Linked DNA regions of Homo sapiens: region 1 is linked to region 2. Evidence: fine-mapped expression QTL. Tissue or cell type: whole blood. Region 2 holds a variant in brackets; the other region holds the start of a gene. All regions are shown on one strand. Distances are between the middles of the regions.

The links. PIP is the estimated chance that this variant, and not a neighbour inherited with it, causes the effect.
Region 1: SNTG2-AS1 starts here. The variant in region 2 is fine-mapped to the expression of SNTG2-AS1 in whole blood (TOPMed, PIP 0.96).

What each region holds. Positions count from the first base shown.
Region 1 is chr2:947,155-955,346 of GRCh38, reverse strand. It overlaps SNTG2-AS1 (SNTG2 antisense RNA 1), which reads left to right and starts at 3,955. Exons shown (of 3, transcript NR_136151.1): 1 at 3,955-4,062; 2 at 4,961-5,436; 3 at 5,546-5,713. It overlaps SNTG2 (syntrophin gamma 2), which reads right to left and starts at 4,498. Exons shown (of 17, transcript NM_018968.4): 1 at 4,279-4,498. The coding sequence starts at 4,350. RefSeq lists a silencer at 4,460-4,589.
Region 2 is chr2:745,402-753,827 of GRCh38, reverse strand. It overlaps LOC105373480 (a long non-coding RNA gene), which reads right to left. Exons shown (of 5, transcript XR_007086128.1): 2 at 3,972-4,094. Among named protein-coding and RNA genes, the nearest start is that of TMEM18, 72 kb to the right of the region's middle. The variant A/G (reference allele first, on the strand shown) is at 4,461.

The sequences.
Region 1 (8,192 bases), 200 kb before region 2:
CGATTCGGTGCCATCATCAAATGATGTTCACCCAAATGTCGAGTGAATGTTGGTAACTCCCAGAGTTGATACTCAGAATCTTGACAGTGGAGGGTCACCTTTTTCATTAACACTAATGCGGATTATTGCAAAATAACAGGCCATGCACTGATCTAGGTTTCAAGTCCAGAGAAGTGAATGACATGCAGTTTCTTTACAAAGTATAACAGATAAAACAGAATTAAAACTTAGCAGTTTAGCAGTTAGCAGACTGTGAAGTTTAATAGTTTTTGCACTAAAAATATAACTTTACATTTTACAAATGTTTAGAACAGTATCCCCTAAATAAGAAGCATACTCACTTTCTTAAATCCAAAGTCTTTGCTAAATTAAAATGTAGCTAGTTTATAATCATATTTATAGGATGTAAAAATGTAGACTCCTTAAAAAGCAAACTATTTTAACATGTAATTCTAATTGCAAAATCACATCCTCATATTCACAGCATTGTTAACAGTATTTATTAAAATGTGCAAGGGGAGAAAACAGGAAGGTTCAGGCTGATGGGGTGAAGAAGCAGCACGGTCCCTGGAAGGCAGCCAGAAATGGGTGAGCTTTTGGAGGGCCTTCTTGTTCAGAGGGGCAGGGGATGAAGAGCCACAGGCTGGGGTCAGTCCTCAGGTGAGGGATTACACCCACATAGGGGAGCTTAGCATTTAATACAGAAATAGGAAGGATAACCTCGGCTTCCTGAATTTTACAGGGAACTTTAGTATGGACTGGGGGAAAGTGACATCTAGTGTTAGCTGAAAATAATCCAAAGTCGACTATTCAAAACTACAGTCATGACAACATGCGGTAACCAGCTGGACAACAATGACAAGTACACACCAGTTCAAGGTCCATTTTCCATTAAATCCTGAGTGCATTTTTCCTCCAAAAGCATGTTTTCCACCTTCCTTGTTGTGTCTCACTCAACAAAAATACCTCTAGAACTAATTAAAGAGTGAGTTTCTGAGGGATTTGGAATCAGATACAAAGTGACCTTCGGAACCCAAGCACACATTCCACAGGTGAGAAGCCAGAGCCAGAGAGGATGGTGGTTCCCGAAGCCGGGGTTCTCTGAGTTCCCTGGAACCCTGATCTCCCTCCTTCCTTCTCCATTTCCACGAGCACCTGCCTGTGTCCGCCCCATGCCCAGCAGCGCAGGAGCTAGGGGTGCGCAGCAGAGCCTGAGAGCAGCTCCTCTTTGGGGTCCCTCGTGTGCCTGCTGTCACATGCTACATGAGCTAACAGGAAAGCCAGAAAATCACACTGCTTAGTAAGTCTATCCTGAATATACCCATTTAGTAAATAGGAGGCCTGCGATGCAAACACACCCTCTGTCACCGAGAACTGCAATGCCAGCCCCTCTGCCAACTCACTCAGAGCCTCATGGGGTATCTTGAGAAGCAGATCTAAATTAAAACTGAAGCTTAAATGCCTTGTCTACAGTCATCATCCATAAAGATATCCAGAGACAAGAAGCTGTTGCTCCACATACACCATTCAGAAAACAAGGCAATTTTAACATCCCATGTTGGAAAAAAACAAAAACAAAAACAAGGCACACTTTTCTTAATTGGACCTCATTCAAATATTTACTGGGGAACATGTCTCCATGTCTCCTGGTAAAGTCAGGTAACTGCCTGCTTTGTAATGCATGGATTTTGCTTATGATGTCATAGACGTCAATAGAAATTCTACAGTTGAAATTAAAGATGAGTCAGCAAGGATGAGAAACATAACCAAAGCATAGAAGGAATGGGGAACCTTCTTAGGAGCTCAGATGCTTCATTCATCTCATGCAGCAATTCACATCTGTAAACAGATGATTAGGTGGTGCCCTTACCCCACATGCACCTTTAAAATGACCTAACGTGCTTTCCCCCTTCAGTGGGCAAGCTCATCACATAAATGGGCATGTTCCCGGCTCATGCCAATAATTCTTCCAGCGCCCCAGACTGAAGAAGTGTTGTCATTTAAAAGCAGCAAATGTGCTGTAAACATCAACCAATAGTAGTCTTTGAAGCTACAAGCAAGACACACTTCGCACATTGTACTGAGGTTGTCTGCCAGTGGGATTTTACCCCTCAAATCCAGGTATGGTCAGAGACAGAGCTCCATGAACTCACTTAACTTAGAAAAAAACATCGGGAACAGGCACTTGAAAGGGGAAACAAAACAGGTCTGTTACCGAACAGGAGACCTTCAAACGTGGCCAAATTCCATGATTCAAACAAGCAGTCATGATAAAGAATGTGTATAGTTTTGACTTCAGATAGAAAAAATATAACTAGAAATATAAGATTTAGAAAAGACTTTCATCTTTTTCTAGTTAAAAGCACCAAGTTCTCTTAACTGAAATGATTAAATAATTACACAAGTTGAATAATATTGTGCAGTTATGGTAAGAAAATAATTCTGCCATTAAGTAAGGATGACATTGTATACTAAGAACATTCATGTTTTCAAGACAAACCTGCCAACACCAATACTTAACAGATTCGTTTTAAATACATAAGAATCTGAGCTAACATGACCATGCACTGGTGTCTAAGGTAGGCTTAGCACATACCTAATTACTTATGACTGCAAAGTTAGGAGTCTTGCTCTTAAAATGCTCCATCTTATTGTAATACTTGGCCTCCAACGCTAAAAAAAAAGTTTCTTTCAATACAATTCAGACAGGCTGTTTCAAATAATCAAGGTCCTTATTAGAAAGAAAGCGCCAATCACATCTTGTAGCAAACAGGTGAGCAGAGGCCACTCTTGACTGGAAAACATCAAATTTAGCACCTTAATTAATACTGAGCGCAAAGGAGAGCATTTACTAGAATACGCGCAGTTGCTTTATTTGTTGACGTTATTGCCAATAACTCATCAAGTGGGTCAATCATGAAGTATGATGAATCCACTTCAACGCTTCCGCTATAATTACAATGATTAAAAGCAAGAATTGCTTTGCTCGAATGTCTGGAGAAAAATGCACAATCCCTAACCGTGGGAGGGCATCATTATAAAGCTGAAGGCAGTGACCAGACGGAAAGCCTGTGATTCCACAGCGCCTGCAGTTTTTACTGCGGTTTATTTCCAGGTAATCCCCGCATATTTTCTCGGGTTTGATTACCATGGGCAACAGTGGGATAGCTATTCATATTACAAAGTACTTCAAGAAACGAACACCCACATTTTACATGAAATTTAATTTTCATATTTTGTAGTAAAAGCCCAGAAAGGTGCTACTTGAATGAAGATGCACCTGTCTCTACATAGAAATCTTTTTAACATCACAGTAGCGACGACCACAGTCCTAGTTTAGAATCATTATTATGACGATAGGAATTTGTAGCAGCCCTCAACCCGTGGCCTTCTGAACCGTCTCTCCACTGTCCTATAAGGGAGGGCTAACTGTATTCCTGGTCGCTCCTGGGACTGGGAGCTCCTGGGGAAGGAATCCTAAAGGAGTGGTTGTCAATGCATTTTCATTAACAGCCGCGCTTCTCGGCAGCCTCCTAGGGCTGGGGTGGCCACGTGCTCCCTTAAACTGTTTTCACAACTCGAGGCTGTGCTGTGGGTGGCAACTTGAAGGTTTCCAAGAACTTTTCGTTTTTCTTTGGGCCAACATTTCTGTTTTCTGTCAATCAATAGTTTAGTTATTTAAAAATAAGAAGGTGAAGAGGGAGTTATTTAGGGTGGGAACCAGAATAGACTTCAAAAAAGAAATCCGTATTACCCAGTTGGCGTCCCAGCGGTTCCCCGAATGGCCTAGAGCCCCCAGCACCTGCCGAGGCCGCGCCATGCACCTGGCTGGGCTCAAACTGGCCAACTCAGACCTGGCCTGGGCGCCCGAAGGCTGCAGGGGGGACGCTCCGGTCCGAGCCACCGCCTGGGCCCGAAAGAGCCGCTCCTGGGAAGCAATGCCGGGCCAATCTCAAATCCCAAATTCTGGAAAGCACTACTTCCCACGCAGTAAAGGGAAGCCCGGGCGCCTCAAAACCAAACCTTGGAAGACGCTGGAGGAGCAAAGCCTGCAAGTTTCCAGTAAGACACTGGGCTGGAGGGAGCAGAGCGGCCAGGGGGCGGGTGCCCACTGCGTCCCGGGGCTCCGGCGCCCACCCTCCGGCCAGCCGTCCCCGGAGACAGGGAAGGGGTCGCGGGGAGCGAGGGGGCGTGGAGGGAGGAGGGGCGGGGGGAGAAGGGCGCGAAGGAGAGGGAAGGGGGGCCGGAGGTGAAGGGGCGCTGAGGGGCCGCACTCACCCGCGCAGGTACCAGCAGGCAGCCCTGGCGTCCGCGGGAGGCGGCCGGGGGCGGGGGTCCCTCGGTGCCCATCGCCGCCCCTGCGGCTGGGTCCGCGCTCCGGGCCGGCCGAGCTCAACGCCAGGACCCCGTCCGAGCCTCCCAGGGCCCCGCCAGGCGCCGCGTCCGCGCCCGCGCCCCTCTGCCGGCTCCGGCTCGGGCTCCACCGGGGCGCAGGGCTGGGGAACCGGAGCTCCGCCCGCCGACCCGGAGCACCGCCCACGCAGACCCGCCCCGGGCGAGGGAGGGGCCGGGCGCGCACCCGCGGGGAGGGCGGCGAGCGGGGATCAGCCGAAGTCGGGAGAGGGGCGCTTCCACGGGGCGGGAAACTGGCGCGCGACTCTGGGGGAAGTGCAGGATGGGGGGACAGGGGCGCTCCCGCGGGGGTGGATGGGGGACCATAGCGGGGCTGGCGGGGCAGGGGCCGGCGCACGAGGCTGGAGGAGGGGAGCGCGCGCTTCTACCCGGGCTGGGTCGCCGAGGTCCGCGGCGCATCGTGGCGGCGGTGGGCGGAGGGGGGCGGGGGGCACCTCTTCTCCCTTGTGGCGCAGGTGGGCGCGCTCTGGACCGGCTTGACGACCCCTCCCCGCCGCCCCACCTCCCTGGCCAAAGGTTCTCAGCTTCTAATCAGGGACATTTCTAGTCCACAGCCTCGAAGCCATGGGTTCTCCCCGGCCCTCTGAAGCCGCCACACCTGTGCCAGCCGGCCGCGTCCTCAGACCTTTCCCCGCGGAGTCTTCCCAGCACTTGGAGACGCAGCGCAGGGCCCCGAGGACGGCCTGGCCCGGAGAAAAGATACCGAAGCTCCAACTTTCCCCAACCCCGCTCCCCTCCTCCTTCCACCCTCCCTTCCCGCCCCCAAAGCTCGGGGGTCCTATCCCTCCTCCGGTCCGCGGAGTCTCCCGAACCCTGCGGGGACCCGGCGCTCGGCGGTGCCCTCCTGGGGCGCACGGGGCTGGGGCGGGAGCGAGGAGACCAGGTGGGGAGGGGACCCCAGATCTCAGACGCCAGGGGAGACGGCGTTTCCCGCTGTTCATTCAGGTTTGTGCCAAAAGGAGCCTCACAGATGCAGTATTGGGTTTGGTAGACTCAAATCGTCTTGTTTTAATGTAAATGAAAGTAAGTTTAGGATAAATTCCAGTGCGGCGGGGGCAGGCAAGGCTACCCACATTTTTTAAAAAGAAGCCAGCCCGTATTTTTCTCCCTTTCCAAATCCTCCGCCCCCCAGTCCTTCGACCCAGGCACGAGCGCCCATCGCGGAGGCCACGATGCCCGTTTTATTCCCTCTCCACGGCAAGGAAAAGCAGCGAAATCTGAGGTCTTCAGAGGTTAACCCTATCTAGGAGCAGAATGTGACGCATTGTAAACAAATAAATATTGAAAACTCGATGTTAAACACTTTACTTTTTCTGACTCCGACTTGCTTGACCCCTGAGCAGACCTGGGTTTCGAACACAGACGCCCTTCCCCATTTCTCTATTCTCTGTATTCCTGTTTCACCTTCACGGCAGTCTGCCAGCACTTCTTAGCACTCAGTTTAACCAGAGGACAAGCTCTTGAATAGCAAAAACCAGGTCTTTTTATACGTGGCACAGTGGCTGTTACAAAATATGCTTCTTGGGTGAATTGGTAAAAAATATTGTATTACTTTTTATTTGTAGCAAAACCTAGAATAAGAAAAAGTACAAGAGATTATTGTTTGCCTTTAAATTGCATTTTTAAAAGAGCGTGCATATAATCTCTGAGAAATTAAATGTCTACAAATAGCACAAAGATATTGTCTCATTACCTTGCAAAGGGACATTCTATTCCAGGGCCTGAAGAAGGAAAAACAGCGTGTTGCATGCATAAATGTTGACTTTGAGAGACAAGTTTTTGTTAAAATTTTATCGTTAAATGAATAGACACATATATTTTTGTTTTTCAGACCAAAGGTAATTGTTAATTCATTTGTAAAATAATGTAGTTTTGGCTAACAATCTCTGGAATCCTTTCTATAATAAAATTTTGTGATTCCAGGACGTCGTAGGCGCTCTGGGGCTGCTTTTGAAAGGCTAATTAATTCAAGTTTTAACTGCCTATCTGCTTTTATGCATCTGTGTCAGGACTGCACGTAAGGGTTATTTTGCTTATTTTAAATACTAGGGTTCTACTGCAATAACAATAACAATAAAAAGTAAAACCCTGACTATCCTGAAACTCTGCGAGGGAATGTCCCCCATGAGGTTACCAAAATTCAACTTTCTGGTTTTTGTGATGAGTATAGCTTTGATTCTGAGATGTGTCTAAAACCAGTTGCAGTTAGTGTCTCTTTATTAACTTTTAACTTTGAAATAATTCTGAATTTACAGAAACTTTCTAAATGTAGTACAAAAAACTCCAGTAACCCCTCATCCTCATGGGTATGTTCCAAGACCCCCAGTGGCTGCCTGATACCGTGGATAGTACTGAACTATGTATGTGTGTATATATATGTATCAATTGCATGCATATATATATGTATCAATTGCATGCATATATATATATATATATATATGCATATATATGTATGCATCAATTGCTGACCAAACTGATGTATGTGGCCTAGACAAACTGGAAGATGCCCTGGTCAAAAGGCAGGAGCAATGAGGTTGTATTTCAAGGTAAAAATACAACCTTGAGGCCGGGCACAGTGCTTCACACCTGTAATCCCAGCAATTCGGGAGGCCAAGGCAGGTAGATTGCTTTGAGCTCAGGTGTTTGAGACCAGCCTGGGCAACATGGTAAAACCGCGTCTCTACAAAAAAATACAAAAATTAGCCAGGCATGGTGGCATGCACCTGTGGTCCCAGCTACTAGGGATGCTGAGGCTGGAGAATCCCTTGAACCCTGGAGGCGGAGGTTGCATTGAGCCGAGATCATGCCACTGCGCTCCAGCTTGGGCGACAGAGTGAGACCCGGTCTTAATAATAATACAACCTTGGCCTTGTCATTTTTATAGTCAACATATTCAGAATGGCCAGGTACATTGTCTGTTACTAATGAGACTTTATATTCCAACCTTCCCCCTTCCAAGGCTTTGGGAGGAAGTACTGGTGGAGCCCTTCCATAAACATGGTGGTTACCACTCATGCTTTCTGGTTATGTTGCCTGAACACAAGCAGGTAACGTTTGTTTTTTGAGCATAAGTGTTCCTCTGTGTGTGCAGCACACCTGGCTTGGCCACACGTCCTACAGCATTGCACACGGCACAGGGTAAATCAGCCCTTCAGTGTTTTATGCCCTGGGGCCTTCTTTGCCCTTTCAAGAACGTAGGTTCTGTTGGGTATCTTCTTCCAGAGGAGCCTGGTCTCACTGCAATTGAAGACTTGCTTTGGATGGCATCCTTTCCCTTTAATCAACTTCAACTCTGCCGGAAATATGGCAGCAGCTTCTTCACTGGCAAACACAGCCTCTCCAGTTTTTTGGTTTTTGGTTTTTGGTTTCGTGACAAGCCCACTCCTAAATCAGTGTAGCTATGCCTCACTTGCCATGAATGGCTCAGTGTCACTCACTTTGGGGGACTGACTGCTGAAGTCTTCCCATGGGATTGTGCTTTCTGCGCTGACGTGCCCTCGGTGGGAACACCTTTCCGCTCATGTCTTCTACCTACAAGTTCAGCGTCTTTTCCGTCTTAAATAGGCACTTATCACTCACTGCAGCCGTAACGTTTGCAGTTTGAAATGTGATAGCAAAACTAGCATGATTTCTTTTTTATTTTTATTTTTATTTTTATTTTTATTTTTTATTTTATTTATTTATTTTGAGATAGAGTCTCACTCTTGTCGCCTAGGCTGGAGTGCAGTGGCGCGATCTCGGCTCACTGCAAGCTCTACCTCGCTGGTTGAAACAATTCT
Region 2 (8,426 bases):
AGATACAATATTCTCACATTTTAAATATGAAAATAAAAATAGTGCAGGAAAGTCCATTTTCTTCTATGGATCCAGTGGTCACATTTCTTTAGAAGAGCAAGCAAATATCATGACTACTGGGAATTGCCTGCATTATATTCATAACCAGGTACAAGACAGTTTATTTCCTAAGTAGTTAAGTGCAATGAATTCATCTTAAGTCCTTAAAACTTCCCATGTGAACTCTGCACAAAAGCACTTCCGTGAAGACGTTCTCAATATTTGGAGGAAGAATTCGTAAAGAGTTAATGCTTGAATTAATTCAATTGGTCATTAATTTCCTATGCAGCTAATTGCTATTGATGACATTAAATGCCAACCTCATCATTGCTTTGTCTTGAACAAGGGCAATGACATCAGATTACCCCTGGCTACAGCTGGCCTCACTGGCAGCACCCGTGGGACCAAGCGGATACGTGTGGAGCCTGTGCACCCCTCTCCAGCCGCCTCCTGCAGGTGCATCCCGCGCTTCCTTCAGAACTCAGGTGGTGTTCACTTAGCCTTCCGTCAGCTCCTTTTGGATGGACAGGGTGGACTTCCTCTTTCTCCCTCTTCACCTTGTATCCACTTTCAATGAAATGTCCATAGCAGATTATGTGTCTAAACATTTGTTTTCCACATTTGATGGTGCACTTCTTAAATGTGGGTATTAAGTTTCTCCTAGCATTTGGTATGATGGCCAGACTCTAGTATTGCTGAAAAGATGTCTGAGCAATAGATGCTCATGGAAGGGAGAGTGTCATCGAGGCAGATGCCCTAAGAATGTCTTTATGGAGAAGGGAAGTACTAACCTGGCCCGAGGTGATGAGTAGTAGCAAAGAAGGCTAAAAACGGAAGGGAGAGAAGCCCAACACAGGAACCTGTTTCCTGAATATTGGAACGGCCAGAGCAGGACACCTCTTCCTGACCAAACAGAACAGAGGCTTCTACCTGGAGAACATGGATGTCTTCCAAAAGATCTGGGGATGCCCACCTTTAGGGTGATTTAATAAGAAATTAAGGGCAGACAAAATTCTCTGGCATTTTCTTCATCATGATGACTCTGAGGTGTGTCCCACCCCGCGGTGGGTCAGAGCGGGCGTGTGCTTGTCACGTGCTCACCCGTGTCTCCAGCGCCCAGAAGTGCAGGTTGCATGTGCTACACTCAGTAAACACTGGCCAGTTTCACAGATAAACTCAGGAAGACACGAAGAGTCACATTATTTTCTCTGGAACAAGTAAGTCTGAAGCCCAGTTCCCATCACAGGGAGATTTTCTCCCAGTCACCACTGGAACTCACTCAGCCTCTACCCAGGGTTACCCAGGGTCGGCGTGGATCATGACACCTTCAGGAGGGAGACATAGGGTGTGGATCGCCATGTAGGAATTTCACGTACTGGGATAGAGGAGCAGGAAAAAACATTCTATCTTAAAACTGGAGTTTGCAGCCTCTGGGGGACGGCTGACGTGGAACCGTGATGGTGCTACCGGCATCTGCTATGTTACCCTCGTGCCTGCTGTTGTGTGTCAGGTTTTATATGTTAATAAATTGTTAGGATTATAAAAACATAATATGCCATAAAATGGCAACAATATGAATAGGAGAAAGTAGATTTTTCATCAGAAGACCCAGATTCAATCTAAATTGTCTTCCTTAGGAGTCGAGTGTGACTGGGCGACTCGCTACTTCCAACCTCCATTTTTGCACGTTCTCACCATCCCATAATATTATGAGAATTAAATAATAGAATATATATGAAATATCTAATGGAATATTTGGAAGCAAATATTTGCTCAATGATATTTTGAATAAATAAATTAATGGATAATAAACATACAATCATAACACCATAAACAAAACCTACAGAACAAAAGCATTTCTATCCCAGATATTAAAAGTCCCTGTTGTAGATGAGGACAGGTAAGTGGCCTAAGGTCATTCCCAGGCTGGGTCCAAATAGAACAGTGTTCACGCCACGCAGACACCAGCAGGCGTCCCCTGAGAGGTCCCTGCAGGCACCTCAACACCTGCAGATGCCTCACCCTTCACCTGTGGCCCCAGAACGCTGTGGAAAAATGACTTGACAGAAGCACAGGGACAAACATGGGGTTTCAAGGCCATCGGAAGCCCAGAGCAGCAGCTAGACCCGAGGAACTCGGCCATGGTGGCTTTTGAGTGAGGAAAGAGGAGTGGCTGAGATTTGACTGGGGTCATTGTTCAGCGGTCATGTGGGCTTAAGGGGTGAGTACAGGGAGGGATAGTTGCGTTTACGCATAAATCAAAGTGGAGAGTGGTCTGGCCCCTTCAAATGTGCACACACACAGCATTCAGCATTTGCATTTTTAATTCCTGTTTCCTATGTTGCTTCCCTTGGAAATGATTTTTAGTTAATACTTAAAACAGACACTGCCCAGGTACAAGCAGCTTAGTCAATGCTCCATGTCTGAGGGAGGATGGTTTTTGCCTGCCCTCCAAGAGTTTCCCAGAATATCCAGTGTTTCTTGAGTGCGATAAGTGGAGCCCAAGTGGAAAAATCTTTCCCATGAGGAAGCGATGGGTCGGCAGCTCCACGCGAGACTCACACCATTGCTGAGTTTCCACACATTGACTCCACCACGCCATGTTCCGTGGTCATCAGAGCAGGTGTCTGTCCTGCGGCCCCACTTTGCACTCCCCTCACTAGAACCTTCGTATAGTAAAGGCTTCAACTTCACTGAAGGTCTTCTGTGTTTACCATCTCATGATTAATTACCAAGGGAGAATAAGAGGTGGATTTGTCAGCTGGAATTTTACTCAGGCCTTTAATTTTGAAAATTAAAAGTTTTCAAATGATTTAGAACATGTTGAGGAAAAAAGCCATGTCTGTTTGCAGATATTTTTGTGTGTTGCTCATGCCTTTCTACCAAAAGTACAAGCCTTTTCAGGGTCTGTGAGCCCGCCAACCATTGCAAAATAATTCACAAATACACATTTAAGATAAAAAACAAAACTGGCCGGGCATGGTGGCTCAGGCCCGTAATCTCAGGGCTTTTGGAGGCTGAAGGGAGAGGATTGCTTGAGGCCAGGAGTTCAAGATCAGCCTGGGCAACATAGCAAGGCACTGTCTCTACAAAACGTATATAAAAAATTATCCAGCCAGGCGTGGTGGCTCACACTTGTAATCCCAGCACTTTGGGAGGCAGAGGCAGGTGGATCACGAGGTCAGGAGTTCAAGACCAGCCTGGCCAAGATGGTGAAACCCTGTCTCTACAAAAATTAGTTGGGTGTGGTGGCGGGCACCTGTAATCCCAGCTACTCAGGAAGCTGAGGCAGGAGAATCACTTGAACCTGGGATGGTGGAGACTGGAGTGAGCTGAGATCGTGCCACTGTATTCTAGCCTGGGCATCAGAGCAGGACTCTGTCTCAGAAAAAGAAAAAAAAGAATTAGCCAAGTGTGGTGATGTGTACTTGTAGTCTCAGCTACTCAGGAAGCTGAAATGGGAATATCTTTTCAGCCCAAGAGTTTGAGGCTGCAGAGAGCTGCTATCACGCCACTGCACTCCAGTCTGGGCAACAGAGAAAGGCCCTGTCTCAAAAATAAAATAAAATAAAATAAAATAAACAGGTGACAACTCAGTTTTAAACATTTAAGCCAATGAAAACCCTAATTAATAGCTATTTTATAACTGGAATTAACTAAAGTTCTACTGCACTGATCTAGATGTCAGCAATACCTGAGTTAAAGCCCATTTCTAGGACTCAGGTAATATTAGTCTATGAATTTAATTTATTCACCTGTAAACTAGAAATAATGTGTCAGACCACACGGGGTTTTTATGATCTAAGTAGATGACAGACATAAAAGCAACAAGCATAATGTCTCACCCGAAGTAGAATTCAATATTATTGTTTGTTTTTTCTTTATCCTTCCTCTGAATTTAGGCATAAGTAGATAAAGCACAAGAAAATTACCTGAGCTTTGAAACTGCAAACAGAAGCCACCATTTCAGAGCATCCCCTTCTGCACCCAGCACTTCCTTCATCAGCTGCACCTCCCTCACTGATGTGGGCGAGCACCCTGAGCCTTTCAACACCCTGCATGAAAAATCCATTACTTCACTAAGTCATATTTGCCAAGGCAAGGAAGAGTTGGCCCAAAATATTTCCTCCTGAGAGAGGACTTGTCCCACCCACATCAGATGTAAGACACCCATCTCATTCTGTTTTGTTCCTTTCAAAGGATTTGCTATTATTTGTAACTATGTTTTAGATAAAGGTATTTATTCTTCTTTCCCCCCAGTGCGAGGACAGGGAAAGTGTGATCTGGACCCTGGTGTCACCAGCCCGGTGTCTGGAGCACACGAGATAATAAATGTTGAAATCATGAGTGAACAAATACAATGTATAAAATTTCAGTAAATACTGTTTATTTTTTAAATTTTGCCATAATCTATACAATAA[A/G]TATTAACCAATGATGGATCTTTTCTTTACAGAAGGTTACCAAACCAGTTTGCATTTGTTGACTTCGTTAGTGGAGGCTCCTCCATAACGAGCTCGTTAATTTTAGGCCACCTTGCGTGGCTTTGGTTGACACTCAGTGTGTGACAGCTAATGTGATGCTCCCTGAAAAGTATATCGCAGAGTCTCGCAGAATTACGAGGAAGGCAACGGAGCTCCGCAGCCCTGCGTTTAACCTTTATTTATTTATCCATCATAAAATGTGGGGCTTCTCCAGTTCCAGACAATATCTGAAAACTAGAGTAACAAAGATTAAGGGGACACACACAGCCTCTATGCAGACACGCTGACATACGGAGCTCAGCCCTCTATGCAGACACACTGAAATATGAAGACACCCACAGGCCTCTATGCAGACACGCTGACATACGGAGCTCGGCCCTCTATGCAGACACACTGAAATATGAAGACACCCACAGGCCTCTATGCAGACACGCTGAAATATAGAAACACACACAGCTCTCCATGCGGACATGCTGAAATACAGAGCACAGCCCTCTATGCAGACACACTGAAATATAGTCATTGGCAACTAAAATACAGTGTGAACACATCCAACAAAATGGGCGCACAGGGAGTTATGACAGGAACTTATGACAGCAAACGGCACATGGACCCACAGGTCTGATGATCTCTGGCCATCCCAAAGGTTGGGCCACTCCCTACCATATGCACCTCTGCTGAAGCAAGTTGAGAACTGACTCGCCGGGAGGGAGTCGCTGGCCAACGTGAGGCCAGCCTTGTGCACAGAGCGCGCATGGAAATGGTGCGGGTTCGCCGTCTCGGGAGTTGGATACGACTGCCATCTTTTTATAAATGAGAATTGCAGGATCATCGACCATTGTGTACTCACACATTTAAAGATGTGTAAGTCTTAAATAACCCTTTGGGAATATTAAGGAGCTGTCACAGGGGTTCTCAATTTTGGATGTGCATAAAAACACTTCTGTAGTGATTTTAAATGAAAGTGCCTGGTCTCAACTAACACCTGCTGAACCAGAATTGCCACGGTTTGGGTTTGAGAATCTGTTTTTTTGTTTTTGCTTTTATAAGTTTCAGAAGCAAAAGTGAGGGTCGCTGGTTTGCAGGTGATTGAAGGGTTTGGCCACCTGTGGGCCATGATGTCATTGTTGTTGGTGGTGGTAATGGTGAGGTTGGGGCTGTGATGTCGTTGTCATTGGTGGTAGTGATGGTGAGGTCAGGGCTGTGATGTCATTGTCATTGGTGGTGATGGTGAGGTCGGGGCTGTGATGTCGTTGTCATTGGTGGTGATGGTGAGGTCGGGGATGTTATGTCATTGTCATTGGTGGTGGTGATGGTGAGGTCGGGGCTGTAGCATCGTCATTGGTGGTGGTGATGGTGAGGTCGGGGCTGTGATGTCATTGTCATTGGTGGTGGTGATGGTGAGGTCAGGGCTGTAGTGTTGTCATTGGTGGTGGTGATGGTGAGGTCAGGGCTGTGATGTCGTTGTTGGTGGTGGTGATGGTGAGGTCAGGGCTGTAGTGTTGTCATTGGTGGTGGTGATGGTGAGGTCGGGGCTGTGATGTCGTTGTCGGTGGTGGTGGTGATGGTGAGGTCACTGTAGGAAAGCCCAGCAGAATGGCCCTGAAGCGTGGGCTCCGTCCCCGATATGCCTTCCCATGATCTCTTTTCCTAAGGAAAAATCCGAATAAATGAAGGGTGAAGGCAGCCTTGAAAATGAAGCAAATTATAAAGGTAAACTATAGGCGAAAACTTCAGGGGAGTCTAAACGTTTTATCTCGATGATTAATGGGTGCCTTGGGTAGCATTCTCTACATGTCTTAGGGCATCAGGAAACAGAACTGCCCTATTTTTTCTCAGAGATTTATTCATTCAATGAACATATATTAAGTACCAAGTATTTCCAGGTCTTATTCCAGTGATTGGAATTCAATAATACACTTACTGACAAATTCCCCTGTGTCTGTAGAACTTACAATCTGATGGGTAATAAAACAGGTCAGTAACAATAAAAATTGCAATAAATAAGTGGAGTAGGAATTAAATGATAAAAGGTACTATGTATGTAAGAATAAGGGATCCTGGACACAGTTGTGAGCAAGGCTGCGAGGCTAAGTGTGCAGTCAGGGTGGGCATCCCTGTGGAGGTGACGTCTGAGCCTCCATTACACTCAGATGTGGACATGAGCTGCCTCGGAAAGGAACATTCCAGAGAAAGGCACAGCTAGGGTAAGGCTCTGACCTGTGTCCTGCATGCTCAGTGAAGCTGTTTGGTTCAAGTGGAATGAAAATAAGGAGAATAAAATTTTTTTTAAGTATCAGAATTTGCTCAGATGCCATCTCTACAGGTCATGACCCAGCTCTGGGAGAGCCTTGGCAATCTGCTTTAACTAGGGAAATGCTGCAGGGTTTGAGTAGAGAAGGGGTCTGGCCTGACACAGCAGATATCTGGCCAGTGTTGAGAAGGGAGTCTGCACATTCGTCAGGAGTCCAGATGGAGATTATTGTGACGCAGGCCAGAATGGCTGAGGTCACGAGGGGTGGCTGAAGTTTGGGTACATCTGAAAGGTAGAGGCAATACGATGTCCTGATGGATTAGAGCTGAGGTTGAGAAAACAGATGAGTTAATGACTACGGCATCGCTCCTTTCTCCTGAGGATCTGAAGGTGTTGTCCGCGGAGCTGCTGTGACGACAACACCCCACATTGTTCCCCATACACTCAGCCTCCCTTGCTGTGGGTGAGGCCACGTGGCCATTTCTGGCCGATAGACTGCAAGGGGAAAAGCTATGCCACTTCTACCAAAGCAGGTAGAACAGAGCACATCTTCACCTTTGTGTCCTGCCCTATGTGAGGACCTCAGAATCCTCACACAGGGAGCGTGCAGCTGCTGCTGGTGGAGCCCAGCAGACAGACCCCGAGTGACTGTGGATTCATGAGTTTCTGTCATTAAACAATGTAATTTTTTAATGTGAAAAATAAATTGTGTGTTTTTATAATTAAGAAACAAATTTTCCAAAACGCAAAACATAACATTTGTTGGTGGTGGGGCGGGGGGAGGGGGGTGAAAAAAATATTAAAACCAAAATGATGCTGTGGTTTTCTGTGGCTGAACCTTTTTGTTCCACCGGTAGTTTTCATGCATTGATTAGTTTTTAAGATTTCTGAAGGATGCTCTAACTCATGAAGCATACAAGAAACCCCATGATAAAAGAAGTCAGGAATATTAAAGTTAAAATCTCTAAATAATGTGATAATATGATGATGAAAAAATTAAATTCATAAAAACTGACCCAGGATTTACACAGATATAGAATTATCAAATACATTTATAAATTACTATACCTGAATTAGGTATGTCCAAAAGTTAAGTAGAGACACTCATGATATATAAAAGACTCAAACCCAACTTCTAGAGGAAAAAAGCTACAACGTTTAAAATGAAAACTACAGTGGATGGGAGGAACAACAGATTACACATTGCAGAAGCATATAGGCATGAAGTTGGAGACACAGCAAAAGAAACTAACCACAATGAAACACAAAGTACACACAGTCAATGTACATAGAAAAAAAAGATGCTATAGGAGAGAGAAACAGAAAGAAAGAAAAGAGCATCATGATCTGTGGACAAGTCCAAGCAACCTGATATATTGGTAATTGTCATCCATAAAGATGGAGAAAGATGCTGAAAGCAGATGCTTGGAGAAAAATGTTCCAAGTTACCAAAACAGAGACCATATAGCCAAGACAATCCTAAGCAAAAAGAACAAAGCTGGAGGCATCATGCTACCAGACTTCAAACTATACTACAAGGCTACAGTAACCAAAACAGCATGGTACTGGTACCAAAACAGATATATAGACCAATGGAATAGAACAGAGGCCTCAGAAATAACACCACACATCTACAGCCATCTGATCTTTGA